3 separate regions of the Homo sapiens genome follow, and regions 2 and 3 are each linked to region 1. Evidence: fine-mapped expression QTL. A gene starts in region 1. Each other region holds a variant in brackets. All regions are shown on one strand. Distances are between the middles of the regions.

Evidence for each region. PIP is the estimated chance that this variant, and not a neighbour inherited with it, causes the effect. A credible set is the group of variants that fine-mapping cannot tell apart.
Region 2: its variant is the best candidate, but not a certain one, in a credible set for the expression of C1GALT1C1 in NK cells (Gilchrist 2021, PIP 0.82).
Region 3: its variant is the best candidate, but not a certain one, in a credible set for the expression of C1GALT1C1 in anterior cingulate cortex (GTEx, PIP 0.56).

Annotation. Positions count from the first base shown.
Region 1 is chrX:120,627,104-120,637,498 of GRCh38, reverse strand. C1GALT1C1 (C1GALT1 specific chaperone 1) reads left to right here and starts at 7,445. Exons shown (of 2, transcript NM_001011551.3): 1 at 7,445-7,582; 2 at 10,328-10,395. The coding sequence starts at 10,333. RefSeq lists a silencer at 7,208-7,477 and an enhancer at 7,137-8,064.
Region 2 is chrX:120,562,027-120,571,122 of GRCh38, reverse strand. It overlaps a transcript of CUL4B not described here. Among named protein-coding and RNA genes, the nearest start is that of CUL4B, 5.6 kb to the right of the region's middle. The variant AAT/T (reference allele first, on the strand shown) is at 4,003.
Region 3 is chrX:120,685,716-120,696,282 of GRCh38, reverse strand. No RefSeq gene overlaps it. Among named protein-coding and RNA genes, the nearest start is that of C1GALT1C1, 61 kb to the right of the region's middle. The variant A/G (reference allele first, on the strand shown) is at 4,882.

The DNA of each region.
Region 1 (10,395 bases):
GAAACCCCGTCTCTACTAAAAATACAAAAATCAGCCGGGCATGCTGGTGCATGCCTGTAATCCCAGCTACTCAGGAGGCTGAGGCAGGAGAATCGCTTGAACCCGGGAGGCGGAGGTTGCAGTGAGCCAAGATTGCACCACTGCACTCCAGCCTGGGCGACGGAGCGAGACTCCGTCTCAAAAAAATAAAAATAAAAAATAAAAAAATAAACTCCAGATAAATTAAAGACTTAAATGTAAAACCTAAAACTATAAAAACCCTGAAAGATAACCTAGAAAATACTAAATGGCATAGGCCCTGGCAAAGATTTCATGACAAAGATGCCAAAAGCAATTGCAACAAAAACAAAAATTGACAAATGGGACCTAATTATCCAAAGAGCTTCTGCACAGCAAAAGAAACTCTCAACAGAGTAAACAGACAACCTACAAAATGGGAGAAAATATTTGCAAACTATGTATCCAACAAAGGTCTAATATCCAGAATCTATAAGGAACTTAAATGAATGTACAAGCAAAAAACAGCACCATTAAAAAGTGGGCAAAGGACAATGATATTGTTTGGCTTTGTGTCTCCACCCAAATCTCATCTCGAATTGTAATCCCCACGTGTCCAGGGAGAGACCCAGTGAAAGGTGAATGGATCATGAGGACGGTTTCTCCCAAGCTGCTCTCATGATAGTGAGGGACTTCTCACTAGAGCTGATTGTTTTAAGTGTAGCACTTCCTCACTCTTCCTCTCTCTCTCTCCTGCCACCATGAGGAGACATGCCTTGCTTCCCCTTCACCTTCCACTATGATTGTACGTTTCCTGAGGCTTCTCTAGCCATGCAGAACTGTGAGTCAGTTCCGGCACAGTGGCTCAAGCCTGTAACCCCAGCACTTTGGGAGGCCGAGGTGGGTGGATCACCTGACGTCAGGGGTTCAAGACCATCTGGGCCAACATGGTGAAACCCTGTCTCTACTAAAAATACAAAAATTAGCTGGGTGTGGTTGCATGCGGCTGTAGTCCAAGCTACTCGGGAGGCTGAGGTGGGAGAATTGCTTGAACCTGGCAGGCAGATGTTGCAGTGAGCCGAGATTGTGCCACTGCACTGCAGCCTGGGCAAAAGAGTGAGACTGTCTCAAAAAAAAAAAAAAAGAAGAAGGAAAAGAATAAGTGTGAGTCAATTAAACCTCTTTCCTTTATAAATTATCCAGTCTCAGGTAGTATCTTTATAGCAGTGTGAAAACAGACTAATACAGACATGAACAGGCACTTCTCAAAAGAAGACATACATGTGGCCAACAAATATATGAAAAAATGCTCATCATCACTAATCTTTAGAGAAATGTAGATCGCAACCACAGTGGGATACCATCTTGTGCCAGTCAGAATGGCTATTATTAAAAAGTCAAAAATAGCAGATGCTGGTAAGGTTGTGGAGAAAAGGTAATGTTTATACACTTCTGGTGAAAATGTAATTAGTTCAGCAATTGTGGAAAGCAGTGTGGTGATTCCACAAAGGGCTTAAAACAGAATTATCATTTGACATAGCCATCCCATTATTGAGAATATACCCAAAGGAATATAAGTCATTCTACCATAAAGACATATGCATGCATATGTTTATTGCAGCACTGTTCACAATACCAAAAACATAGTATCAACCTAAATGCCCATCAATGGTAGACTGGCTAAAGAAAATGTGGCATGTATGTACCATGGAATACTATGCAGCCATAAAAAAGAATGAGACCATGTCCTTTGCAGCAACATGGATGGAGCTGAAGTCATTCTCATAAGCAAACTAACATAGGAACAAAGAAAAAAATACCACATGTTCTGTTTTTTATTTTTTGAGACAGAGTCTCGCTCTGTCACCCAGGCTGGAGTGCAGTGGTGCGATCTCGGCTCACTGCAACCTCTGCCTCCCAGGCTCAAGTGATTCTCTTGCCTCAGCCTCCCGAGTAGCTGGGACTACAGTTGTGTGCCACCATGCCTGGCTAATTTTTTTTATTTTTAGTAGAGATGGGGTTTCACCATGTTGGCCAGGTTGGTCTCAAACTCCTGACCTCAGGCAATCTGCCTGCCTTGGCCTCCCAAAGTGCTGGGATTACAGGCGTGAGCCACTGCGCCATGCCTTTTTTTTTTCTTTTTTTGAGACAGAGTTTTGCTCTTGTCGCCCAGGCTGGAATGCAATGGTGTGATCTTGGCTCACTGCAACCTCTGCCTCCCAGGTTCAAGCAATTCTCCTGCTTCAGCCTCCCGGGTAGCTGTGATTACAGGTGTGTGCCACCACACCCAGCTAATTTTGTATTTTTAGTAGAGACGGGGTTTCACCATGTTGGTCAGGCTGGTTTCGAACTCTTGACCTCAGGTGATCTGCCCGCTTTGGCCTCCCAAAGTGCTGGGATTACAGGCGTGAGCCACCACACCCGCACTCTCATTTATAAGTGAGAGTTAAACAATGAGAACACATGACACAAAGAGGGGAACAACAGACACCAGAGATTACTTGAGCGTGGAGGGTGGGAGAAGGAGAAGATTAAAAAACTAACTATTGGGAACTATGCTTATTACCTGGGTGACAAAATAATTTGTATGCCAAACCCCCAAGACATGCAGTTTACCTATATAACAAACCTGCACATTACCCCTTAACCTAAAATGAAAGTTAAAAAAAAAAAAAAAACTGCTGGCTTGACACAGTGGCATACGCCTGTAATCTCAGCACTTTGTGAGTCCGAGGCTGGAGAATTACTTGAGGCCAGAGCTCAAGACCAGCCTGGGCAACACAGCAAGCCCCTGTCTCTACAAAACATTATCCAGGGTGGTGGTGCCTGCCTGTAGACCCCATATTTGGAAGGCTGAGGCAGGAGGATTGCTTGAGCCTAGGAGTTGGAGGCTGTAGTGAGCCATGATTGCACCACTACACTCCAGCCTGGGTGTCAGAGTGAGACCCTGTCTCTAAACAAAAACAAAAAACAAAAACAAAAACAAAAACAGAAAAACAATAATGCATTTGCCCCTATTTCTGTGGGAGAGATCACTAGAATGGGTTTGCTGGGCCAAAAAGTATGAACATCTTAATTTTAATAGATACTAATTGCACATGTTTTTTAAATTAAGGCTGAGATATGGAATGTTGTTTTAAAAAAAACGCCATTACTGGCTGGGCGTGGTGGTTCACGCCTGTAATCTCAGCACTTTGGGAGGCCAAGGCAGGTGGATCACCTGAGGTTGAGAGTTGGAGACCAGCCTGACCAATGTAGTGAAACCCTGTTTCTACTAAAAATACAAAAATTAGCCAGGCGTGGTGGCATGCGCCTGTAGTCCCAGCTGCTCGAGAGGCTGAGACAGGAGAATTACTTGAACCTGGGAGATGGAGGTTACAGTGAGCCAAGATCACATCACTGCACTCCAGCCTGAGTGACAGAGTGAGACTCTGTCTCAAAAAAAAAAAAAAGCCATAAGTCAATCATCTCACTAACTTTATTTAAAATGCTAAGTATATGTAAGTTATTTGTCAAGTAAAGAACTGGGTTCTTAGACAATTTCTTATTAACAGAGCTTTTGGTGTTGAAAATCCCATGGTTTATTCTGTCTCAGAGCATCTTATGTCAATTTTGTGTGTGTGTGTGTGAGACGGAGTCTCGCTCTGTCACCCAAGCTGCAGTGCAATGGCATGATCTCGGCTCACTACAATCTCCGCTTCCCAGTTTCAAGCGATTCTCCTGCCTCAGCCTTCCAAGTAGCTGGGATTACAGGCGTGCGCCACCACGCCTGGCTAATTTTTTGTATTTTTAGTAGAGACGGGGTTTCACCGTGTTAGCCAGGATGGTCTCGATCTCCTGACCTCAGGTGATCCGCCTGCCTCGGCCTCCCAAAGTGCTGGGATTACAGGTGTGAGCCACCATGCCTGGTCTCTTGTGTCATTTTTTAAATAATATTTTTTAAAATTACCAACCACTATAAGAAGCGCTGCTCTTATATTATTAATACTTCCAGTTTGGTATACAGTACTTTTCTATACTAAAAGAAGAATCATTTTATTTTTTTCCAGCTTTATTGAGGTATGTTTGACAAATAAATGTATACAATTAAAGTGCACAATGTGATGATTTGCTATATGTATACACTGTGAAATGATTACCACAATCAAGCTAATGAACATATTCATCATCTCAAATAGGTGCCCTTATTTTCTAGGAGAAACATTTTATATTGCCTCTTCATCACAGTCTGAATTCTGAGTGTCATTTCTGTCCTTCCTGGTCCCTTTTTGCGAGGACAGAGTGGTTCTCTGCATTCTTTAAAAGATATTTTTATTGGTATCTTTTCTTTTTTTTCTTTTTGTCCCTGTAATTTTAAGGTCCTTTTATTTGCTGGTCTTCAAATTCAAAATAGGTGCTTGTTTATAACCAGTGAAACAATGCAATACAAGGATGTATAAAGACAAAGCTAATCATCCCCACCTCAACCTCCTGATGTAATCAATATTAAGAGCTTGCTGAGTATTCTTCCATAACTCTCTTTGTTCATACGAACAGATCAAACCTATGTGCACGTTTGTTTCCACCAAAACATAATCATATAATATGCAGTATTCTGCAATTTGTTTCACTTAACTATATAGGTATATATACATACATACATATATATTTTATATAATATGTGAAATAGACTATATTACTTAACAAAATATAATGAAAATATTCCACGGTCTTAAATTCTTTTCCAGTTCTAAAATTCATTTTTTCTTTTCCAGCGGGCCCACTGTCAGAAATAAAATTCATTTTGGTATTCCTTTAGAAAACATACCACCATTATAATTATTTGTAATAAATTGTTTAATGTCTTTCTTCCCCACTTGACTGACAGCTCCATGAAGTCAGGGTACTTATTTTGCTCACCACTGTATCTCCAGATTTTAAGATAGTGTTGCCAGGATAGTAACTACCTACAATATATTTGTTCATTGTTTCAGAGTTCCCTGAAACCTTCAGTCTACTTAAACTAGGTCACTGACAACACTCAAATACATGTGTGTCTTTAGGAACTCAGGCCCGAGTAAGTCACCACTCAATTTTATCTTAATGGAACCTAGTAACAATACACTTTAAATAATTGTAAAAATTTGGGCTTTTTAGCAAAAAGCCTTCTGCCACAAAAATGAATTTTTTTTTTTTTTTTGAGATGGAGTCTTGCTCACTCTCCCAGGCTGGAGTGCAGTGGCACGATCTCGGCTCACTGCAACCTCCACCTCCCAGGTTCAAGCAATTCTTCTGCCTCAGCCTCCCGAGTAGCTGGGATTACAAGCATGAGCCACCACGCCCGACTAATTTTTATTTTATTTTATTTTATTTTATTTTATTTTATTTTATTTTTTTTTTTTGAGATGGAGTCTCGTTCTGTCGCCCAGGCTGGAGTGCAGTGGCGCTATCTGGGCTCACTGCAGGCTCTGCCCCGGGGTTCACGCCATTCTCCTGCCTCAGCCTCCCGAGTAGCTGGGACTACAGGCGCCCGCCACCTCGCCCGGCTAATTTTTTGTATTTTTAGTAGAGACGGGGTTTCACTGTGTTAGCCAGGATGGTCTCGATCTCCTGACCTCGTGATCCGCCCGCCTCGGAGTCTCGCTCTTTCGCCCAGGCCAGACTGCAGTGGCGCTATCTCGGCTCACTGCAAGCTCCGCCTCCCGGGTTCACGGCATTCTCCTGCCTCAGCCTCCCGAGTAGCTGGGACTACAGGCGCATGCCACCGCGCCCGGCTAATTTTTTGTATTTTTAGTAGAGACAGGGTTTCACCGTGTTAGCCAGGATGGTCTTGATCTCCTGACCTCAGGTGATCCACCTGCCTCGGCCTCCCACAGTTTTGGGATTACAGGCGTGAGCCACTGCGCCTGGCCAAAAATGAATTTTAAAAGACAGATCGGTGGCTCACACCTGTAATCCCAGCACTGTGGAAGGCCGAGGCGGGTGGAACACCTGAGGTCAGGAGTTCGAGACCAGCCTGGCCAACACGGCGAAACCCCGTCTCTACTAAAAAAAAAAATAATAATAACCAGACGTGGTGGCGCACACCTGTAATCCTAGCCACTAGGGAGGCTGAGGCAGGAGAATCACTTGAACCCGGGAGGCAGAGGCTGCAGTGAACCGAGATCCCGCCATTGCACTCCAGCCTGGGCAAAAAGAACGAAACTCGGTCTCAAAAAAAAAAAAAAAAAAAAGAGACACATCAAATATTTCGTGGAAAGAGAGCTCTGCACTCTTAATTAGAAGACCTGGGGGCCGTGCGCAGTGGCTCAAGCCTGTAATCCCAGCACTTTGGGAGGCCGAGGCGGGTGGATCACCTGAGGTCAGGAATTCAAGACCAGCCTGGCCAACCCCGTCTCTACTAATAATACAAAAATTAGCCGGGCGTGGTGGCGGGCGTCTGTAATCCCAGCTGCTAGGGAGGCTGAGGTAGAAGAATCGCTTGAACCCGGGAGGCAGAGGTTGCAGTGAGCCGAGATCGTGCCATTGCACTCCAGCCTGGGCAACAAGAGTGAAACTCCGTCTCAAAAAAAAAAAAAAAAGAGACCTGGATTCCAGTCCCACCTCTGCCATTAACTTGCTGTGTGGACTTTTGAAATTTCCTTATCCTTTTTAGGCCTGGTTCCTCAGCTGTAGTTCTAATATTCATTAATTCCACTAATATTTACTGTCCACTGCGTGCTGGCACTGTGGTTAAGTACTAGAAATACTGGGGTGAATAATAACAGCCAGTACTTTTTAGTAAATGCTTACTCTAGGCTTGAAATTTTGCTAAGGGAGTCATATGCACTATCTCATCTAATTTTCTATGAAATAGGCACTACTGTGACATTTTCTGTACTTTACAAATGAGGGAACTGAGGCACAGCGAGGTGAAATAACTTTCCTGGGATATCAAAAGGTGTGGTGAAGACAGGATTGGATTCCAGGCAGTGGGGCTTCAGATCTCATTCCAGTAATAATAGGAAACCGTTGGTGTCATAATTACGTGACTATTTCAGTGGCTTGCGTTTTGGTCTCAGCCCAGGAGTACTGGGGGGGTGGGCAATATGAGGGTTCAAGGACGCAGGGGTACATCAGAGAAACCATCAAGAGGTCTGATAAAAAGCGACACCGGGAGCAAGAATCTCTCGCTCTCGCAATTTCCATGCCAGGAAGGTGAAATGGGAGGTGTCAGCGAGTCGTACGCACGGCCTCTTCTCTGGACGCCCGTTGGGTAAAGGAGAGCGTCCGGGTCACGCAGGCCTATAGCAAGTCTCTGAACTCGGCAGGGGGCGGGGAGAAAGGGCACGCAGTGTGCGCGCAGCGGGCGCGCCGGCCCTTCCGACGCCTGCGCGGGCGGGCAAACGGACGGCTCCGCCCAGCCGCCGGCTCCTTTACCCCGCCCCACTACCCCCGCCTTCGCGGCGCTCGTTTCCTGGCGCTCCCCACCTTTAGCGAGACCAACGAGAGAACACCGCCTGCAGCTAGAACAGCCTGGTCAGGAGCGTAACGGAGTGGTGCGCCAACGTGAGAGGAAACCCGTGCGCGGCTGCGCTTTCCTGTCCCCAAGCCGTTCTAGACGCGGGTGAGTGGCGGGGCCTCGACCCCCACCCCAAGCGCACCCTGACTCCCCTCCCTCTCTTGGGGGAGGCCTGGGCCCCAGCCCTCTCCCAGCATGCTCCACGCGGGATGCTTGGGCAGGTGCAGCGGGAGGATTGTCAGCACAGGAGACCGAGAGTCTTCTTCCTGGGGGCGCTCTCTTGGTCCCTCAGAGGGATATCGAGGTTACCATGTCCTCCCTCTCACTTCTCTTCCCTATTTCGTCTTCGTTTTCCGTACTTCACCCCAACTACCTTCACCCAAAAAGGTTCATCTAAAAACCATTGGGGTAGTTTCTGTTTCATTTGTGCTCGTGTGCAGTTTTGTTTCCTTCTGCACAAAGTATCCTATCATATGCATCCCTAGTGTTATATTTTTTGCCTCTGTGATGGGGAAAAAATCTCCTTAGAATAATTTTTGCAAATTATTTTATTTAAAATGTGTAGACTTACTGAGTTTTGATCACTATTTTTGCAGCCAGGAGTAGGATCACCATCAGGAAGAATTCTGACACATATGCCATAATTGAGCAAAGAAACATGTGAATTATGTATTGGCCAGAAATAATGAAAACTGCGTGACATGAAATACAAAAATCCTATATAAATTAATCTTAGAGTGCACCTGACAATTCTTTTTCTTTTTTCTTTCTTTCTTTCTTTTTTTTTTTTGAAACAGAGTCTCGCTCTTGTTGCCCAGGCCGGAGTGCTGTGGTGCGATCTTGGCTCACTGCCTGCAACCTCCGCCTCCCGGGTTCAAGCAATTCTCCTGCCTCAGCCTCCTGAGTAGCTGGGATTACAGTCATATGCCACCATGCCCGGCTAATTTTTGTATTTTTAGTCGAGACAGGGTCTCACCATGTTGGCCAGGCTGGTCTTGAACTCCCTACCTCAGGTGATCCACCTGCCTCGGCCTCCCAAAGTGCTGGGATTACAGGCGTGAGCCACCGCACACAGCCGACAATTCTAATATTATGCCGAGCTTGTTTTCTGTCACTTCTCTTCTTGGAACTGTGTTTATTGACCAAGTTCTGTGAGTGACACAGGAAAGTCTTCCTGCCTCTTGCCCCACCCACCGCTCAGAAATTACATCTGCCAAGCTATTCCACACCTTGTCTTTCTGGTAGAAGTCAAAATTCCATTTCCTCTAGCAGAAAACCACAGGAGTGGTTTCCTTGTAGCAATATGGTGCTGTTGGGTGCAAAATATCAGTTATGGTCAACAGATCCCACTTTTTTCCCATTTGTATGAAAACAAGGATATTCAGTAACCCATTTATTAAACTCTAATGTGGTAGAAGCACTATGGCAATTATTCTTCTGTAATGGAAAAAAACCATTAAACTGATATTGAGAAATGTGGTTTCTAGTCCACTTATACCACTGTCTAACTGTGTGACTGAGTCAGTTATTTAACCTCTGTGGACTTCCATTTCCTCTCTGTAAAATGAGAGAAGTGACTGACATTGGGTAGTTTTCTAAGGCTCCTTTCAACCATAAGAGAAAACTGGGAAGTCTAAGTAGCTCAATAGATTGCTTTTTTCTGAAGATGGAGGGAAGATTGGAAAATTCAGCCTTTACTAGAATAAATGGTTAACATACAATTTTTTTCAACAAGTTTATTTAATGTCAGCTTTTAATTTCTTTTATTTATTTATTTTTTCTGAGACAGAGTCTCACTCTGATGCCCTGGCTGGAGTGCCGTGGTGAGATCACAGCTCACTACAGCCTCCGCTTCCCAAGTTCAAGAGACTCTTGTGCCTCAGCCTCCCGAGTAGCTGGGATTACAGGCACCCACCACCACGTCTGGCTAATTTTTTGGATTTTGGGTAGAGACAAGGTTTCACCATGTTGCCCAGGCTGGTCTCGAACTCCTGAACTCAAGGGATCCACCCACCTCAGCCTCCCAAAGTGCTGAGATAACAGCCATGAGCCACTGCACCTGCCTCTTAATTTCTAATTGAAATAAAAGTGTAAATTTTTCCATTTTTACTTCCCCAAAGAAGAAGAAAATTCCTTTTGAGGAAATGAAAATGTTTATTAATGGGCCCCAGATATATCTATCAATATTCCTTTTTGATCCAAAAGATGTAACTTTTTATTATGGGCTTCTATTACATCAATAGTTGGGATACTGTATTGGAAACCATTTAGTTTTAGGAACAAAAGGGTAAATATTAACCTATATGGTGTTATTCTCAAGAAACTTGGTTTAGATTTACTCAAAACACTTAAGGACAGCAGCCATCAGTTAAAGAAAGCACTATGTTGAGAACAGAAATGTCAGCACAATACCATTGGTGATTTGCCATTTATAGGTGGTTTTATCTGTTCAACCCAAGGTTTTGGTGTAAAAGTTCACTATATTTTTAGAGGTATTTAAATAATGCAAGCTTGTGATGTGAAATTCTTTAAAGAGAATGGTGGATGGATAACCTCTGTAACACTGGTTTCAAGGGTTTATTAAATCCCCATAGATGAAGTGCAAAACAAACTTCTCCATAGAGGAGTTGTTGCAAAGTTCCAGTTTATACCAAACAGTAATCAGATTCCATTGGAAGCTAAAGATTTTGAGAGCCTTTTGTACTATATGCAACTAACTTGATTTCAAGCTTGGGAACCTTTTAAAAAAAACATTAAAAGCAAAATGTAAGTATATAAGGAATACCAAATCAAATTTATAGACTAATCTTTTTCTATTAAGTATTTTAAGAGTCTTTTTCTTCTTTATAGGAAAAATGCTTTCTGAAAGCAGCTCCTTTTTGAAGGGTGTGATGCTTGGAAGCATTTTCTGTGCTTTG
Region 2 (9,096 bases), 66 kb after region 1:
TCCCCTTCCCTAAATTTTCCTCCCATACTTCCCCTAGAGCAATCTCCTATCCCAGATCTTACATTAATTATTCCCCCCACCCCACCCCACCCCCTTTTTTTTGTTATCTCCCTGTGTTGCTCAGGCTAGTCTCGAACTCCTGGGCTCAAGCGATCCTCCTGCCTCAGCCTCCCAAGTAGCTGGGACTACAGGTGCATACCATATCACCCAGCTATTTTCCTTCTATACTTTAATACTTTTATCATATTATATATCTGCAAGTTTTTCTTATTTTTGAGCTTTATTTAAAAAGTTATCAAATTGTAGGTATTATTTGGTGATTTGTGTTTTTCACATAACATTGTTTGAGACTTATGCACATGGCTGTAATTTATTCATTGTTCAATGCTGTATAGTATTTCATTATGTGACTATACCACAATTTATTTAGCCATTTTCTTATCAAAGAATATTCTCTTGCCATCCTTTGAAGTCTGCATGCAGAATAGGAATAGAAAATCCTTAGCATGTTCTAAATCACTTTCTCCTTTGTGCCATGTCTCTGTTTTTAACAATTAGTATATTCAAATGCAAGGACTGGCAATTTTTTTTTCTGTTAAGGAACTAGTAGGAACTATTTTAGACTCTGTGGGCCATACGGTCTCTGTCAAAACTCTAAACTCTGCTGTTTTAGCATAAAAGCAGCCACAGAAAATACATAGGCAAATAAATATTGCAATGTTCCAATAAAACTTTATTTACAAAAACAGGTAAAGGACAGGGTTTGGTCCATGGGCTGTGGTTTCCAAACCCTGCTGTAGTTTATCTGAATTTTTGTAGTGTTGCCCAGTATTGTGGTTCTTATTATCAAGTCTGCCCTTGTCTTACTTTGCACGTGTCAAACCCTATTCTCCCGCTTTGTGATTCTCACCTCCTATATCTAAGAGTGAGCCTGACTTGTAAATCCAATTCCTGAACCAGTGTGGCTCAAGGCAAGAAGTGTTATCTGTAGCCACAGCTCCAACAGCAAGTAGGGTATTTGAGTAAGATTTGGTGCTAAGAGGCCTAAGATTGCTGTACCAGACTTGAGATTGGGATGCTGCCTTCATTTCCTTCATTAGCTCTTCAGAGTTTCTGGTTAGGACTGAAGTTACACTCTAATAACTAGTCTCCTTGCAATGTCCTGAATGTGCCTTACTCTCTCTTCCTTTAGGATTTAAATGTGCTTCCTATCTTCCTTCTTTATGCCCCCTGCTCCCTTTCACTCCCTTTGCCTGGCTAATTCCCACTCACTCTCGGGGATTTAAATTGGATTTCTTTCTCTGGAAGCTATTCTTAATTCCCTTCCTCCACTGCACCCCACCTCACCCTCCTAGGCTGGGCCAGGTGTCCCACCTCTGCGTTCTCATAGTGGCCTTTGTCACTCTGTCTTGTAATTGTCTGCCTTACCCACCAAATATATTACTTGGTAATAGAAACTTCCCAGCCGGGCGCGGTGGCTCACGCCTGTAATCCCAGCACTTTGGGAGGCCGAGGCGGTTGGATCACAAGGTCAGGAGATCGAGACCATCCTGGCTAACACGGTGAAACCCCGTCTCTACTAAAAATATAAAAAGTTAGCCGGGCGTGGTGGCGGGCGCCTGTAGTCCCAGCTACTCCGGAGGCTGAGGCAGGAGAATGGCGTGAACCAGGGAGTCGGAGCTTGCAGTGAGCCAAGATGGCACCACTGCACTCCACCCTGGAAGACAGAGCGAGACTCCGTCTCAAAAAAAAAAAAAAAAAGAAACTTCCCTAAGGTGAGTGATAATTTAAAAGTTGGGCATTTAGGGATAGCTCTAAACCTACATTGCCAATTGAGAATGGAGGGCAAGGGTTGTCTTTGTATACTAAGGGAGTAGAACATGATGGGTCTGCCGGCAGGGTTCCTTCACTGTTTTCCTGGATTTGGCCAGGAGAAGCAGCCAGTTTCTACCTCTTGTGAAGATCAGCCACTGGCTGAGGGTCCAGCCAGAGAATAGACTGATTCTCTAGAACAAGATTGCCACCATATCCTTAAATGTGCATTGCCGGCTGTTTTGTCCTACCTGCTTGATGGTGGCCTGAACTGCATGCAAGCTTGGTCTCCTTTTGGGCATTTTGATTTAGCTTATCTCAATAAAAGAGTTATTTTCTTATTCTTCATTTTTTTCTCTTGGTGAGTGGGGCTCTGAACGTCTTTTTCTAACATGTCTACTACTTGAGACTATTTTATGGCAAGTCTCCTTACGAAATTGTAAACTATGGGAAGTGCTGTATTTGGAGTCTGTGAAGAACTGGACTTAGGTCTGTGTGCTTTGTGACTTTAGCAAATAATTTTAACTTCCTTTGCTGAGCCTACTTCTTATCTGTACAGTGGGGATGGTACTTGATCTATCTCACAGTGTGTTTATCAGGATAAAATAAGATTGTATGTGAAAGTGCTTTGAAAAACTGTGAAATCAACTACAAATTGAATTTTGTGTTATTCTGTATTCCCTCACGGCATCTAGCACCATGCGTTGCTGAGAGTATTTGCTCAATATATTTTTGTTGAATGACCAAAGGAATTGGAGAGAGAAATAATGCTGTTGGTGGGAATAAAGGACATTTAGTAATAGAAGCAGGAAAAATACATGACTTGGTAATAGAAACTTCCCTGAGGTGAGTGATAATTTAAAAGTTGGGCATTTAGGGATAGCTCTAAACCTACATACCCAATGTCTGCTCTCTGCTTTGCTTATAAAAAATATTTAAATTTTCTTTTAGTATGATTTTGGCAGCTTAGATAAGCTGTCAAACTTGATTAGGTTTTAAATATGCAGTCATCAAAAAGCAGGATTGGCCCTAGGCAATACTGTGAGGTCAGCAAAATGTACTCTCAGAAATCTTTCCTTCCTGGTTGGTAACCTCACCTCTCACCACTCCCTATTGCAGTGGCTTCTTCTAGTTCTGTTTACCTCCAGTCTCCTAGGACTTTCCTATTAGCTTTTTTCCTCCAAGAGGCATTCACCTTAAAGGGTTAGGAACTAAGACTCCTTGGCTAATTTGCACTTTAAAAAAGGATTCCTAGAGAAGGAGGCAATGTGTTATCCAAATGAGTGAATAAATAATCATGAAATTTCAGGCATTAAACGGAATACAAGTGCTTATCAGCCCCATTCAAATCACAAGACATACTTACTTCATCTACAACTATGGTTTCTCAAACTTGGAGGTATGTAGAATTTCCTGGAGAGCTGTTTTTTTTTTTTTTCTTCAGAGTCTTACTTTGTCACCCAGGCTGGAGTGCATTGGCACCATCATAGCTCACTGCAGCTGGAACTCCTGGGCTCAAGCAATCCTCCCACCTCAGCATCCCAAAGTGCTGGGATATGCCAGCACATACAGCTAATTTTTTTTTTTTTTTTTCGATAGAGACAGGGTCTCGCTTTGTTGACCAGGCTGGTCTTGAACTCCTGGCTTCAAGCAATACTCCTGCCTCGGCCTCCCAAAGTGCTGGGATTACAGGCACAGGCATGAGCCACCGCACCTGGCCAAGAGCTTCTTAAAAATACTGATAATTGAGGTCCTCCTCACAGAGATTCTGATTGAATTGGACTGACTAGGTTTGGACCTGGGTAAAGATTAAAAAACAAAAAAAACTCCTAGGTCATTCTATTGTACAGTGAGTTGGGAACCCTGGATTTAAATCTAAATTGGCACTGGGTGCAGTGGCTCATGCCTGTAATCCTACCACTTTGGGAGGCCGAGGTGGGCGGATCACCTGAGGTCAGGAGTTCAAGACCAGCCTGGCCAACATGGCAAAACCCCATTTCTACTAAAAATACCAAAAAATTTAGCTGGGCATGGTGGTGCACACCTGTAATCCCAGCTACTTGGGAGGCCAAGGCAGGAGAATCACTTGAACCTGGGAGATGGAGATTGCAGTGAGCCAACATTGCACCACTGCACTCCAGCCTGGGCGACAGAGCCAAACTCTGTCTCAAAAAAAAAAAAAAAAAAAAA[AAT/T]CTAAATTGGCCTTGTCTGTGAGAAAAAGAAAAGCTGAATGCCATTAGATCAAACATTGAGCAGGGTGGGGTTGGAGGGACTTTGAGAGACATCGATAAAGTAAACAGAATGTTAAAAATAGGCCCATGCCATGGCACATCAGCTCGCCAAATATATATATAGGCCCAGCAACTCCATAAGCAAGTCCTTGGCAGCACCCAAGGGAGAAGTCATCTGTGGCTGCTCTGGCTCCCCACTCCCAAACCCTCAGGGAAAACAGCCTATCTCTAACTTTTAGTCCTTAAATCTGCTTTCCAGATGGTTCACAGGTATGACAGATAAAATCTCTGAGCTAAGGAACGAAGTGCTTGAATGGTTGATGTACCAAGTCAGTAACTTCAGGCGATGTAAGATAAACAATTTTGCTAAAAATATGAAATTTGGCTGGGTGCGGTGGCTCACACCTGTAATCCCAGCACTTTGGGAAGCTGAGGCAGGCAGATCACCTGAGGTTGGGAGTTCGAGACCAGCCTGGCCAACATGGAGAAACCCCGTCTCTACTAAAAACACAAAATTAGCCAGGCGTGGTGCTGCATGCCTGTAATCCCAGCTACTTGGGAGGCTGAGGCAGGAGAATCGCTTGAACCCGGGAGGTGGACGTTGTGGTGAGCCAAGGTAGTGCCATTGCACTCTAGCCTGGGCAACAAGAGCGAAACTCCATCTCAAAAAAAAACCCAAATATATATACATATATATATATATATATATATATATATATATATATATATATATACCTATACACACACACATACATATGAAATCTGTTATCTATTTACATTTTACTTAGCACATAGGTTCAGCACATGTTATTACTTTCCTTGCTTTTATATAGCAATCTCAGGATGGGAAACTGATGAATTCACATTGTGTAGTTGGATTATTTTTGCTTGAGCTTTGGCCTCCTCAGCAGCCCATTGGTGTTGATAGCATAACAAAGCCCTTATTATGATACAATCTTTACTATCTCAGCATTGCTTAGTTTGCCTTCTCTGTACTTTCCTGCTTCAAAGATGATCCTTCAGAAAAGTGGATGAAGAAAATGGACTGCCTGGGCCGGGCGCGGTGGCTCACGCCTATAATTCCAGCACTTTGGGAGGCCGAGGCGGGCGGATCATGAGGTCAGGAGATCAAGACCATCCTGGCTAACATAGTGAAACCTCATCTCTACTAAAAATACAAAAAAAAATTAGCTGGGCGTGGTGGTAGGCGCCTGTAGTCCCAGCTACTTGGGAGGCTGAGGCAGGAGAATGGCATGAACCCGGGAGGCGGAGCTTGCAGTGAGCTGAGATGGCGCCGCTGCACTCCAGCCTGGGTGACAGAGCGAGACACTGTCTCAGACAAAAAAAAAAAAAAAAAGTAAATGGACTGCCCTTTACCTAGCAGTTTTTTTTTTTTTTTTTTTTTTTTTGCACTCTGTCACCTAGGCTGGAGTGCAGTGGTGCAATCTCGGCTCACTGCAACCTCTGCCTCCCGGGTTCAAACAATTCTCCTACTTCAGCCTCCCAAGTAGCTGGGACCACAGATGTGCACCACCAGGCCTGGCTAATTTTTGTATTTTTAGTAGAGACAGGGTATCGCCATGTTGCCCAGGCTGGTCTCAAACTCCTGGCCAAGTGATCCACCCACTCTGGCCTCCCAAAGTGCTGGGATTACAGGTGTGAACCACTGTGCCCAGCCGTTTTTTCTGTTTTGTTTTGTTTTGGTTTTTGCTTTTTGTTGTTGTTTGTGTTTTTTTAATGCATTCTCAGAAACATCTTCAGATTCTCCTGGGCAAGCAGTCTCTCCCATTCCTAAGGAAAATCCCACCCATTGGATAGGAAGGCTTCCAGGAGTGTCTGTCTAGTGGCAAGCCACTGGTATGAGATATCTGGAGAGGACCTAAAGCACCCCAGATGGCTATAACTGTATGGCGTCCTACATTACACATCTTGATTCCCCAAGCACCCTGGGGAATCCCTGTGATCAAAAAGGGGAAATGGGTTACACTCTGCCTTTTTAGGGAGATGTCCACAGAAATAAAGGAATTGACATTGTAAAAGCTAGCTCCCTGTCTTTGTTTGTATTTCTTCCTTTACACATATACTTACCTTTATAAACAGCTTGGTTAAAGGTGGCCAATAATAACTACACTTCATGTGGCAACATTGTAAAGTTTAATTAATGTTTCTAAGGTATGAGTTGAACTCACAAGATGAAAGATCCTAAATATGGAATATGTGTTAAGTGCCCAGTCTGGTTTAGTCTGATAATGGCTATAATTGTATGGTGTCCTACATTACACATCTTGATTAGTGTGGCTCCCGTGAGTTCAACCTTGAAAATGTATTTTAATGTTGAGAATGTGTTTAACGTTGATTGGCAAACATTTGGGTGTACAGAATATACGCTTATGTTCTTCAACTAGCCTCAATTAGTTGGTTCTTGATGTAAAAGATATTTTACAAACCAACTTGGAAGGTTTTTGTTTTTTTTTGAGACAGACTCTTTCTCTGTTGCCCAGGCAGGAGTGTAGTGGCACAATCTCGGCTCACTGCAACCTCCACCTCCTGAGTTCAAGCGATTCTTCTGCCTTATCCTCCCGAGTAGTTGGGATTACAGGCACCTGCCAACGTGCCCAGATAATTTTTGTGTTTTTAGTAGAGATAGGGTTTCACCATGTTGGCCAGGCTGGTCTTGAACCCCTGACCTCAGGTGATCGGCCCGCCTCAGCCTCCCAAAGTTTTGGGATTACAAGCCTGAGCCACCTAGCCTTGTTTTTTGTTTGTTTGTTTGTTTTTTGTAACAAGGTCTCACTCTGTCACCCAGGCTGGAGTGCAGCAGTGTGAGCTTGGCTCACTGCAACCTCTGCCTCAGGTTCAAGGGATTCTTTTGCCTCAGCCATTTGAGTAGCTGGGATTACAGGTGAACACCACCATGTCCGGCTCATTTTTGTATTTTTAGTGGAAACGGGGTTTCACTATATTGGCCAGGCTGGTCTGGAACTCCTGGTCTCATGTGATCCACCCATGTTGGCCTCCCAAAGTGCTGGGATTACAGGCATGAGCCACCACGCGTGGCCAGATCTGTGCTTTTTAAAACCAACATGTAACTCAGAAGACTGAAGGGCTTAGATAACCATGTGAGATAGGGAACTATTATTACTAGAATGTAGTTAAATATTAACAGGACTCAGCTATCATTTAGGTTAGTAGAAAAGTTTATCTTTGTATGGCAAAAGCAGCTTTCTCTTATCTTTATGTCCATTCCCTTTCAGTTGCACTAATATTTGTAATTTTTTAAAATGGCTAGCACTTCATATACCCTCCTAAAGATTTTAACTACATGAATTAGAACAACCTTGTTCATTAAATCCTGAAAATGAGTCAGTTAATCCTCCCTTATAAAGACACAGCATTATTTTATTCACATGCAATGAAATACTCAATTCAATAAGCATTTACCCTGCATTTACAGTGGTTCAGCATTTTGTGAACTGTGAGACACGATAAAGGAAAGTTCAATGTATTAAGGTGTCTTTCCTGGCCTTAAGAGTTTACTGTTTCTATTTGGGCAGCAAGAACTATATGGTAGGCCCAGCACTTTGGGAGGCTGAGGCAGGCGGATCACTTGAGGCCAGGAGTTCGAGACCAGCCTGGCCAACATAGCAAAACCCTGACTCTACTAAAAATACAAAAAAAATTAGCAGGCGTAGTGATACATGCCTGTAGTCCCAGGTACTCAAGAAGGCTGACGCACAAGAATCGCTTGAACCCGGGAGGCAGAGGTTGCAGTGAGCCAAGATTACACCACTGCAGTCCAGCCTGGGCGACACAGCAAGATTCTGTCTTCAAAACAAAACAAAATGAAAAAAACTATGTGGTATATTCAAAACAGATAGGAGTGCTTCCATCTGTCTCCTTTCAGGCCCCCATCTCCCTTCTCAGCGGTTCTAAGTTCCATTAGAGCCTTGCTTTCAGCAGGCTGTCATCAAATAGCAATGATATTGTCTAATAATGCCAAAGGTTGATTTGCATTTTAATCAGGGACTTTTCAAGACACAAAAACAAGTGGGCCTGTTTAAACAAAGTTAGAAAGTTGATTTATTTGCAGGGTTCTGATTCACCTATCACAAGGTATACCATACAAGCTGCTTTTACTCCACTCACAATCCTGTCACCCCTGGTTTGTAAAAGCTCTGCTTGCTGGATTGTCTCCCTGCTATCTATGATCGCCTACAGAGTAGACTCCAAATTCTTGGCTTGGTGTGCCAGGCACTTTTGAGCCTCATCTTCCTTACTCCCAGCCAGACATCCTACTTCCCAGCCTCACTGCACTTTCCATGTTTCCATAAACAGGCCTGGCCCTTTCACTCCTTGCTTTGCCCTTGTTTCCGTTCCCCAGAATGCCTTTCATCCTGTTCCCTCTTCTCTTTTTGGCAACTCCCACTTTGAGACACAGCATAAACATAATCTCTGTAGAACTCTTCCTATTCCAGATTTCTCCCAAATTTCTTGTTTTGCCTCTTCTGACAGCACTTTGTATATATGTCATATTATTGTTATGGAAATTAGTTTTGAAACTATCTTCCCCTACTGGCTTCTCAAGGGCAGAGACCTTGCATAGTCTTACCATACATGCTAACTGAATGCTTTTGCAGTTAGAATGATCAACAGGTTGGCAAATTTAGTTTTTGATATTGTGTTACCTCCCTCTGAGAATGCCCCAAGGTTAAGTAAAAACTCCCAACAGGGAATTTACAAGGTTTATTGTTGCTAATTTAACCAAACTTAAAGATTTTTTAAATCAATAATCAATTGTAAAGCATGGGGTCATGAAACACATTAGTAGAAAACACTGACTTTTGCCGATATGGTTCTAAAATGTCTCCTTTGGGACAGCGTGTAAACTGAGATTTGGCAAAAGAAGGAAGTGGGTCTTAGCTTTGTTGGGTCTATAAATTACTGAGTTAAGGACTGATAGAGTGGGGGTTAGGACGATCCTGGGCATAGTGCTGGGTGGGTGAGGGGTTAGTTACCTTTCCATTTCTTCGCCTTAGAATACACACTTAATTTG
Region 3 (10,567 bases), 59 kb before region 1:
TGCTTCAGTCTTTAGTCACCTCAGATTTTCCAGAACCTGGAGGTGTCACTAGTGAAGGCTGCAAAAAGACAAAGATGGCAGCATGTCCCTCCCTCTGGGAACTTTGTCCCAGGGAGGTGCAAACCTGTTGCTGGCCCAAAGGCACCTGTAGGAAGTGGCTGGAGGCCCTAGTTTGGAGGTCCCACCCCGTGAGGAGGAAGGGATCAGAACCTGCTTTTAAAAAGCAGCCTGGCCACGTTTTGGTAGAGTAGCTGTGCTGTGCTGGGAGTGCACTTCAGCCCCTGATCGCTTCAGACCCTCTGAAGCCCAAAGGCTGGAATGGCTAAGTCACCCAAACAGCAAAGAAGCAGCCCGCCCCTCCCTCCGGGAGCTCAATCCTAGGGAGAATTAAGATCTTTGTCAGCCGGAGAGCTCAGGCAGGGGTGGGCAGAGGCCCCATTGGGAGGTCCCATCCAGTGAGGAGGAACGGGATCAGGCACCTGCTTAAAGCAGCAGTCTGGCCATGTTTTGGTAGAGGAGCTGTGCTGTGCTGGGGGATCCCTTCAGCCTTCAGCTCAGACTCCAAAGTCTGAAGGCTGGAATGGCCAAGACACCCATACAGCAAAGATGGTGGCCCACCCCTTCCCCTGGGAACTCCTTCTTAAGGAGGTGCGATGCAGCTACTGGTAGTTGGCTGGAATTCCAAGCCAGTGGGTCTTATCTTGTGAGGTGCCATGGAAGTGGGGTGTGTGGGCTGTTGCGGCTCAGCCCCCTGGGAGAAGCCTGGTTTCCCCGGGTCACTCATTCAGTCACCGCTTCCCTGTGTGGCGGGGGGATCCCCTGGCTCCATGTTGTTCCTAGGTAGGCTGTTGTCTTGCTTTTATTCGTTCTCTGTGGGTCAGGTTGTTTCCTTGATTAATCCCAGTGTGAATGCCTGGATGTTTCAGTTGAAGGTGTTGTATTTATTTGCCCCTTCTTTTCCTCTACCTGACAGCCATGCACACTAGCTGCTTCTAGTTGGCTATCTTGGACACTCCCCTCCGCCCCCCACTCTGCCATTCAGCCTTTCAAAAGAAGGAAATTTGGCTGGGCATGGTGGCTCACACCGGAAATCTCAGCACTTTGGGAGGCCGAGGCGGGTGGATCACCTAAGGTCAGGAGTTCGAGATCAGCCTGGCCAACATGGTGGAACTCCATCTCTACTAAAAATACAAAAATTAGCCTGGCATGGTGGCGGGCACCTGTAATCCCAGTTACTGTGGAGGCTGAGGCAGGAGAATTGCTTGAACCCAGGAGGTGGAGGTTGCAGTGAGAGGAGATCACGCCATTGCACTCCAGCCTGGGCAACAAGAGTGAAACTCCATCTAAAAGAAAGAAAGAGAGAAAGAAAGAAAGAAGGAAAGAAAGAAAGAAAGAAAGAAAGAAAGAAAGAAAGAAAGAAAGAAAGAAAGAAAGAAAGAAAGAGAAAGAGAAAGAAAGAGAGAGAAAAAGAAAGAAAGAAAGAAAGAAAGAAAGAAAGAAAGAAAGAAAAGAAAGGAAAGGAAAGAAAGAAGGAAAGAAAGAAAGAAAGGAAATTCTAGCTAGGCATGTTGGTATGCATCTGTAGTCCTAACTACATGGGAGGCTAAGATGAGAGGATTGCTTGAGCCCAGGAGTTCAAGTCCAGCCTGGGCAACATAGCAAGACCCCATTCCTTAAAAAAGGAAGAAAATTTTGTCACTTGCAGCAACAACATGGATGGAATTAGAGAGCATTATGCTGAGTAATATAAGCCAGAATAGAAAAGCAAATACTACATGTTCTCAATTATATGTGGGATCTAAAAAACTTGAACTCATAGAAGCAGAGAATAGAATGGTAGTTACCAGAGGCTGGGGGTGGGGTGCATGGGGAGATGATGGTTAAAAAATATAAATAGGCCAGGTGTGGTGGCTCATGCCTATAACCCCAGCACTTTGGGAGGCCAAAGTGGGAGGATCGCTTGAGGCCAGGTGTTAGAGACCAGCCTGAGTAACATAGCAAAACCCCATCTCTACTAAAAATGAAAAAATTAGCTTGGTGTAGTGGCATGCACTTGTGGTCCCAGCTACTCAGGAGGCTGAGGCAGGAGGATCACTTAAGCCCAGGAGGTCAAGGATACAATGAACCATGATCACATCACTGCACTCCAGCCTGGGCAACAGAGCTAGACCTTGTCTTAAAAAGACACACACTCACACACACATAAGCACCAACTCATTCCTTAGGAGAGATAAGGGGTTTTTTTTTTTACATCTACTGCACAGCATGGTAAATATATTTAATAATAGTGTATTGTACATTTCAAAATTGCTAAGACAGTAAATTACAAATGTTCTCACCACAAAAAATGATAAGTATTTGAGGTGATGGATATGTTAATTACTTTGAATTAATTATTACACATGGTATTCATAAATCATAATATCACTTTGTACCTCATAAACATATACAGGTATAAATTGTCAATTTATAATAAAATAAATAAAAAATAAATTGATTGAGACTTGTAAAAAATATCTAAGTCTTTCTCACATGCATCCTTAAAGCCCATTTCCACTATGGAAACCTGGGTATATAATCCTGAGTTTATTTACCATGTAAGTTCCTTCAAATGTCCCCATAAGCTAGTACCAACTGAAACTGAAACACTCAACTTTCCATAAAGACAGCAACAAAACAAGACTATGATGAGAATCCAAGTCTTTTTTTTTTTTTTTTCGGAGATGGAGTCCTGCTCTGTCCCCCAGGCTGGATTGCAATGGCACAATCTCAGTTCACTGCAACTTCCACCTCCTGGGTTCAAGCGATTCTCATGGAGCAGCCTCTTGAGTAACTGGGATTACAGGTGTGCACCACCACGCCCGGCTAATTTTTGTATTTTTAGTAGAGACAAGGTTTCACCATGTTGGCCAGGCTGGTCTCAAGCTCCTGGCCTCAAGATATCTGCCTGCCTCGGCCTCCCAAAGTTCTGGGATTACAGGCATGAACCACCACTCCCAGCCAGAACCAAGTCTTTTTCACGTTTCATTCCCCAGTGTCTAGCACAGGGCCTGGCCTGAAATAGATGATGCTCAGTGAAATTTCATTGTATTATACAACACAAGAAGGAAGAAGCAATTCTCAACCTTCCTTAGCACATGCCAAAGCATCAGCCAGTAAAGGAACTGAGAGAGGCTGTCATCTACAGCATGAATGGGAATATGGCAAGGCTTTCATTCAAGTAATTTTCTCTCACATTAGATGCAAAGTCATTACTCCTTCTAGACAGTTTCAACATTCTATAATCAACCACCAGCGGCATGGTGTGGTGGACACCTAGCAGCACCAAAAGAGCTTCCTGTCCCAAGTGGCCCCCCACAGTTGCCTGTCATGCTGCCTTATCTTCTTAGTATAGTCTTCACTCTTTAAAGGGTTAGGTTTTTTTGGGTTTTTGTTGTTGTTGTTGTTGTTGTTGTTCTGTGTGTTTTTTTTTTCTATCAAGGGTGAACATGTAGCAGAGCTAGGATCATCTGACTAAGTGGAGACAGCCCGATCTCAGCTCTTATAGCTCTTTTGTAAGCAACCTATGATTCTTCAAGCCTCTTGAATTCTGTATTACAATAGCCTGCTATGTTGGATTCAGTTAGGTATGTGCTAAGCACATGGTTCTCCTGCATAATAATGTAAGAAAACATCCTCCTAGAGTTGGTGGTCAGTCATCTCGTACTCTATGTTTATGTCTGATATCTTCCTCTGACACACCAGCAGAGAGCACGTAAGTTAAGTGACCTTTACCCATGGTTTCAGAGACATGATGGGTCCAAGGTCCTAGCTGCATAGGAAATCCAAGAGTGTAAATTTTTAAAAATTGATAGGAATTTTATAAAGCCAAATTTGAAGAAAGAGCCAAGAAAACTTATGAATGGAGAATGTCAAAAGCAGTAGACTTTAATTTACCCTATATACAAAAATTAACTCAAAGTGGATCAAATATCTAAATTTAAGAGTTAAAACTATAAAACTTGTAGAAGAAACAGAGGAGCAAATCTTGACAACTTTGAATTTGGGCATAGTTTCTTAAATCTGACACCAAAAGCACAGGCAACAAAAGAAAAAATATAGTAATTGCACTTCATTAAAATTATAAACTTTTGTGTATCAAAGGACATTATCAATAGAGTGAAAAGAAAACCCAAAGTATGGGAGAAAATACATGCAAATCACAAATCTGACAAAGGCTTAATATCCAAAATATATAAAGAACTTTTACAACTCAACAACAAAAAGACAACCCAATTTTAAAATGGGCAAAGGACTTGAATAAACATTTTACCGAATAAGATATGCAAATGGCAAAAATCACATGAAAAGATGCTCAACATCATTAGTCATTAAGAAAATGCAAATCGAAACCACAATGAGGTCCAGGTGTGGTGGCTCACACCTGTAATCCTAGCACTTTGAGAGGCCAAGGCAGGTGGATCACTTGAGGTCAGGAGTTCAAGATCAGCCTGGCCAACATGGCGAAACCCCATCTCTACTAAAAATAGAAAAATTAGCCAGATGTGTGGTGGCACGTGCCTGTAATTCCAGCTACTCGAGAGGTTGAGGTGGGAGGATCACTTGAACCCAGGAGGCAGAGGTTGAAGTGAGCCGAGATTGTGCCACTGCACTCTAGCCTGGGTGACAGAGTGAGACCTGGTCTCAAACACACACACTCACACACACATACACACACACAAAATGAGATATCACTTCTATCCTACTAGGATGACTATAGTAAAAAAAAATCAGACAGTAACAAGCATTGCTGAAGATTTGGAGAAATTGGAACACTCGTGCATTGCTGTTGGGAATATAAAATGGTGCGGCCACTGTGGAAAACAGCTTGGCACTTACTCA[A/G]AAATTTAAATGTAGAATTATTATATGATCCAGCAATTCCACTTTGGAGTATACACCCAAATGAATTGAAAGCAGAGACTCAAACAGATACTTGTACATTCATGTTCATAAGCAACATTATTCACAACAGCCAAAAGGTGGAAACAACCCAAGTGTCCATCAATAGACGAATGAATAAACAAAATTTGGTATATCCATACAGTGAAATATCATTCGGCCATAAAAAGGAGTAAGGCTCCAACACATACTACAACATTCTGAGTCAAATATGCCAGGCACAAAAGAACAAATACTATGTCACTCCACTTACATGAAAGATTTTAAATAGGTAAATTCATAGAGACAGAAATTAGATTAAAGGTTATCAGAAACTGAGAGTAGGAGGGAGGGAAGAATGAGGAGTTATTGCTTACTGGATTCATAGTTTCCGTTTGCGGGGGTGAAAAAATTTAGAAATAGTGGCAATGGTTGTACAACATTTTGAATGTAATTAATGCCATTGAGTTTTACACTTTAAAAGGTTAAAATAGCAGTCTATTTCATACGTATTTTACCACAGTAAAAAAAAAAAAAGCAGTTGCTGTGTCTGTGTTAATGGTTCTATTTGAAGTGAGAAGCCATAACAGAACCAGACGCAGCTCAAGGGCATTTTGATAGGGGACCTGAAAGAACAGTGCCAGCAACTCCAGTTTTGCTTTTGCACAAGGATGATGGTGGTTCAGTGTGCTGGTTCAGCCTTCGTCACATTCTCATCAGATGCTGCTTAGTTGAGCTTTAGGATGAGATGCATGATCCATGACTCTACGCAGGAGACCTCTTGAGGCTCTGGAAAGTGAATGAGCTCAGCATTCTTGTTAGGGGAGGGAAGAGGATGTTCCAAGGACTGTGGGTGAAGGCAACGTGTTTGTTGCCCAGGGTTATAATACATGGAGCCAAGGAGCAGATTCCAAATGTGGAGTCCTGAGGATGCCAAGATGTTAGCTGATACAGAGCACAAAACATAAATCACCAAGGCTGAAGGATTACCAGAAATATAGAACCAAGATATGAAAGCAAAAATTAAGGAGACAGGGAAGCTAACACATGAAGTGGGTTAGGGTGGGCTTGAATTGTTTCTGAGCTATCTGCCTCAGATTTTTATAGGATTCTCATGACTGACATTACATTTAAGGGCCTGAAAAGAATGGAACGTTTAAGGTATTTTTGGCATTATAAACCATCATTATTAGACTCTTTTAAGAACACTCCCTTTTAAGGAGAGAAGTAACCTGGGAAACTGACAAGAGCTGTTAGCCTGAGAAAGGAAGAATCGGGGCATGTCAATCTTTCCTCCTCCACAAATAATCAATAGAAATAACAGCATTCCTCAGACATAATAAAAGAACTTAGATGACACTTTATTATAGGCACAGAGACTTTAGAAATGGAAGACACAGCAATTGTCTGTTACATGACCACTGGATATTGGAAATTGGATACCATATGAAACAGAGAGGCTCCTGGAGTGTTGGTACCTGCTATGGAAGCCCCATCTATGGAGCAACCAAACCCAGGTGCTATTTGTCCAGGTCAGGTCTATGTCCTAAGGCTAAGAGTGATAGCAGGTAGATAACATGGGGACAGCTGAGTGAAGTTGAGGCAAAGAGTCAGAAAGAAAAACCTGTGGCACAAGAGACTTATCACACAACTGGGATGGCCACCCCTTACAATCTGTGCGATGTTTCTATACCTCATGCTTGTAAATTCAGTGCAGAGGCCATCAGGTTGTGAGACCAAGTAGATTTATCTCTTGCTGCATAGCACAGATCTGGGCCTGGAAAGAATGAAACAGTCTCTGAGTAAGAAAGGGGAGAAAGTATTAACAAAAAAGAGGAGGAGAGAGGGAGATTGATAAAAGAAAATGTGAAGGGGAACATAATTCAATCTGCTTCTTTCATAATGCCAAGGGCAAGGCTAGGCTTGCCAAAATCGCACAGGAGTCAGGGATTCAATATTTACCCAACAGTCGGTGGCTAAAATAGATTATAATATAAAACCAACTGAATTATGAGAATTACTTGAGCAGTAGAAAACTAAAATATATTAAAGTCATCCATCAGGCCCTCCTGTTGCTAGTAAATGATAATTGGCTAAATCTATTTTCTGGGGTTGCTAGCAAAGGTTGCTCTGGCTCCTGCTCTGGCAGGGAGTAAAAGGAGCAGGTCCTGGGGAGCTAGCCCTGCATACAGGACTTGGAAGAGAGGTACTTCTTTCCTGTGTATTACACAGAAGACAAGTAATAAATTATACTGGTTGTGGGTGATAGGGAGACATCAAGTCAAAATTAGAATAAGGAATACAAATGTGTTATCAACTAAAGTGTCTAGATATTTTTTGAGCCATAGGACCCTTTGACAGTTTAGGAAAAACTATAAATTTCTTTTAAAAGAATAATATTTAAGTATATAAAATAAAACATAATGAGCTACAAATGAAACCAAATATATCTCTGTACAATCATAAAAATATTAATAAGTGATACAGTAATGTATGTGTTTCCTTATTCACACATCCAATAACAAGATCTGGTGGCAGGTCTAGTAACTATTATGATTCCAAAGTAGTGATTAGCATAAAAGGTACTTTGAAGCCTCTACAACTTCTGAAATTTTATATTAAAAGATTTCTACTCCTTTCAAAGTTGCATGTACTACACGTACTACTGTGGTTCGCTGCTTATGTTCATAATATAATTTTAGTTGGACGTTAGTGAAAATGAAACTGTATTTTTTTTATACAAGTTTATAGACCCCTTGATTTTTACCCATTGACTCCTTGGGGATTTGTGCATCCAGATTAAGAACCCCTGGTAGAAGTAAAAAACAAGAGCCAAACAAGGAAGCAGGAAAAGTTACAAACAAATCTGCCTCTTTTATAATAGAGAGGGCAAGCAGGAGGTCTAAATTAAGTGCAGATACCTGTAGCGGTTTTTAAAATGTTCCCATTGTCTTAGTCCATTTGGGCTGCTATAACCAAATACTGTAAAGTGGGTGGCTTATACACAACAGAAATTAATTTCTCACAGTTCTGAGGGCTAGAAAGTCCAAGATCGGTCGGCCACGGTGGCTCACGCCTATAATCCCAGCACTTTAGGAGGCCGAGATGGGTGGATGACCTGAGGTCAGGAGTTTGAGACCAGCCTGGCCAACATGCCAATACCCTGTCTCTACTAAAAATACAAAAATTAGTTGGGCATGGTGGTGCACACCTGTAATCCCAGCTACTCGGAAGGCTGAGGCAGGAGAATCACTTGAACCCAGGAGGCAGAGGTGGCAGTGAGCCAAGATTGTGAGATCGTGACACTGCACTCCAGCCTGGGTGACAGAGCAAGACTCCAAAAAAAAAAAAGAAAGAAAGAAAGAAAAAGAAAGAAAGAGAAAGAAAGAAAGAAAGAAAAGAAAAAGAAAAGGAAAGGAAAAGAAAAGAAAAAAGGAAGTCCAAGATCAAGGCACTGGAAGATTTGGTGTCTGGTGAGGGCTCACTTTCTGGTTCTCAGATGGCACACTCCCACTGTGTCTTCACAAGGTGCAAGGAGCAAGCTAACTCTCTGTGGCCTCTTTTATAAGTGCACTAGTCCCACTTGTGACATAATCACTTCCCAAAAGCCTCACCTCCTAATACCATCACACTGATAACTAGGTTTCAGCGCATGAGTTTCGGGGACGCAAATATTCAGATCATAGCACCCATAATGCACTTGCTTGACTGAACTGAATTCAGCTAAAGGACCAGACAAAAAGCAGACAGGTTATAAATAAAAGAAGAGTGGCTCCATGTTGGTAGCTATTGAAGCTGTGTGATACATACACAGGGACTGTTTGTACCACTCCCTCTACTCATCTGTATATTTGAAATTTTTCATACTAAAATGATTTAGAAGTAATAAACACAATAAAGGGGCTAGATGCAGTGCCTCTCGCCTGTTGTCCCAACTACTTAGGAGGCTTAGGAGAGAGGATCACTTGAGCCTAGGAGTTCAAGGTTGAGGTGAGCTATGATTATGCCACTGCACTCCAGCCTGGGTGACAGAGCAAGACATTGTCTCTAAAAAAAATAATAAATTAATCTAAGTAAATTAAATAAAGGACCTGACATGTCAGGTGCAGTGGCTCGTGCCTGTAATCCCAGCACCTTGGGAGACCAAGGCAGGAGGATATCTTGAGGTCGGGAGTTCAAGACCAGCCTGGTCAACATGGCGAAACCCTGTCTCTACTAAAAAATAAAAAAATTAGGTGGATGTGGTGGCATGCACCTGTAGTCCCAGCTACTCAGGAGGCTGAGGCATGAGAATCACTTGAACCTGGGAGGCAGAGGTTACAGTGAGCTGAGATCGTGCCACTGCGCTCCAGCCCAGGAGACAGAGCAAGACTCCATCTCAAAAAACAAATAAAGATAAAAATAAAAATGAGGACCTGACATCCTGTTTGATCATCAGAATTCCTCAAATTAATTAATTCATTCACTCACCTATCTATTCATTTATTCAATATTTATTGTTGCCTCTGGCACAATGTAGGTTATAGGAAGACTGAAACAAGAGTCATGTAGGTGTCAGACCAGGAGAAACATTAAGGAGGAATCAGTTCCAGTTCAGAATGAAAGTAAGAGAATGGTAGGAGGAAACCAGGAGGCAAAGTAGAAGACTCTGAAGGAGGACATTTTGATAAGGGTGAAGTTCTTGAAAGAAAGCGAAAGAAGGTGGGGCACATAACAATGGGGCACATATTATAAGGTAACAAGCTGGCTGGAAGCAAGAATGGGGGATTGGAGAAAATGGCTGAAGACATGGGGAACTACCAATGGCAGCTTTGCAGCCTCCTTCACAACTATGTCTATCCCTGCATGGAGGAATCAACTTGGTGGCTGTTTTCCACCCAAAAAGGTTTATTCAAGAATACATCATTTGGTAAATAAAAACAAACAAACAAAAAAGTCAGGTCTCATCAGAGCTCTGTCCTTAAAACATCATTTTAAAGTTCATTATGAATCTCAAAAGAAAAAAATATGTACGTTAACTTGTGGAACAGATAATTAAAAGGAACACAGTATAAAAAGAACACAGTATAAAAGGAACAGTATAACTTGGAACTAATGAAAATCAAATGTCAGAGAGAAGAAATTAATCTCTGTTTATATTTCATTTCCTCTAACATTTGCCTAACTGAGAAAACAGCAACTAGGTTTTAATAACATTGGAAGAGCAAAAATTCCCAGGATGTAACCCTTTAAACAAGTTTTCTTCTAAAGACCATTTCAATAATGGCTTGGTAATTATTACATTCAGAGGAGAACTCTGGCTGGCACCTTCCAATAGTGGGATACAGGACCCCGCTGGCAGCCAGATGCCCACATTCTACACTCCTGACTCTTTCAAGAAACAAAGTCCAGACGAGTTTCATCAGGAAAATCTTTTGTAAAAAGATTGGCAAACGAGAGGAATTCTGCTCCAAAATGTGTTTCTCCTTCTTTGGCTACTACTAGTTATGTTTCCTTCAGCATTTCCTGTGACTCTGTTAGCCAGAACACAGTGACTTGAATTTGTCATCCAATTGGCAACTGTTCCATTCCCTTCAGGGGTCCTAGTTATATCTGCTACAACATCTGAACAGTAGGTGGTCCAGTCCCTGTCCACAAAGGCACACAAGTC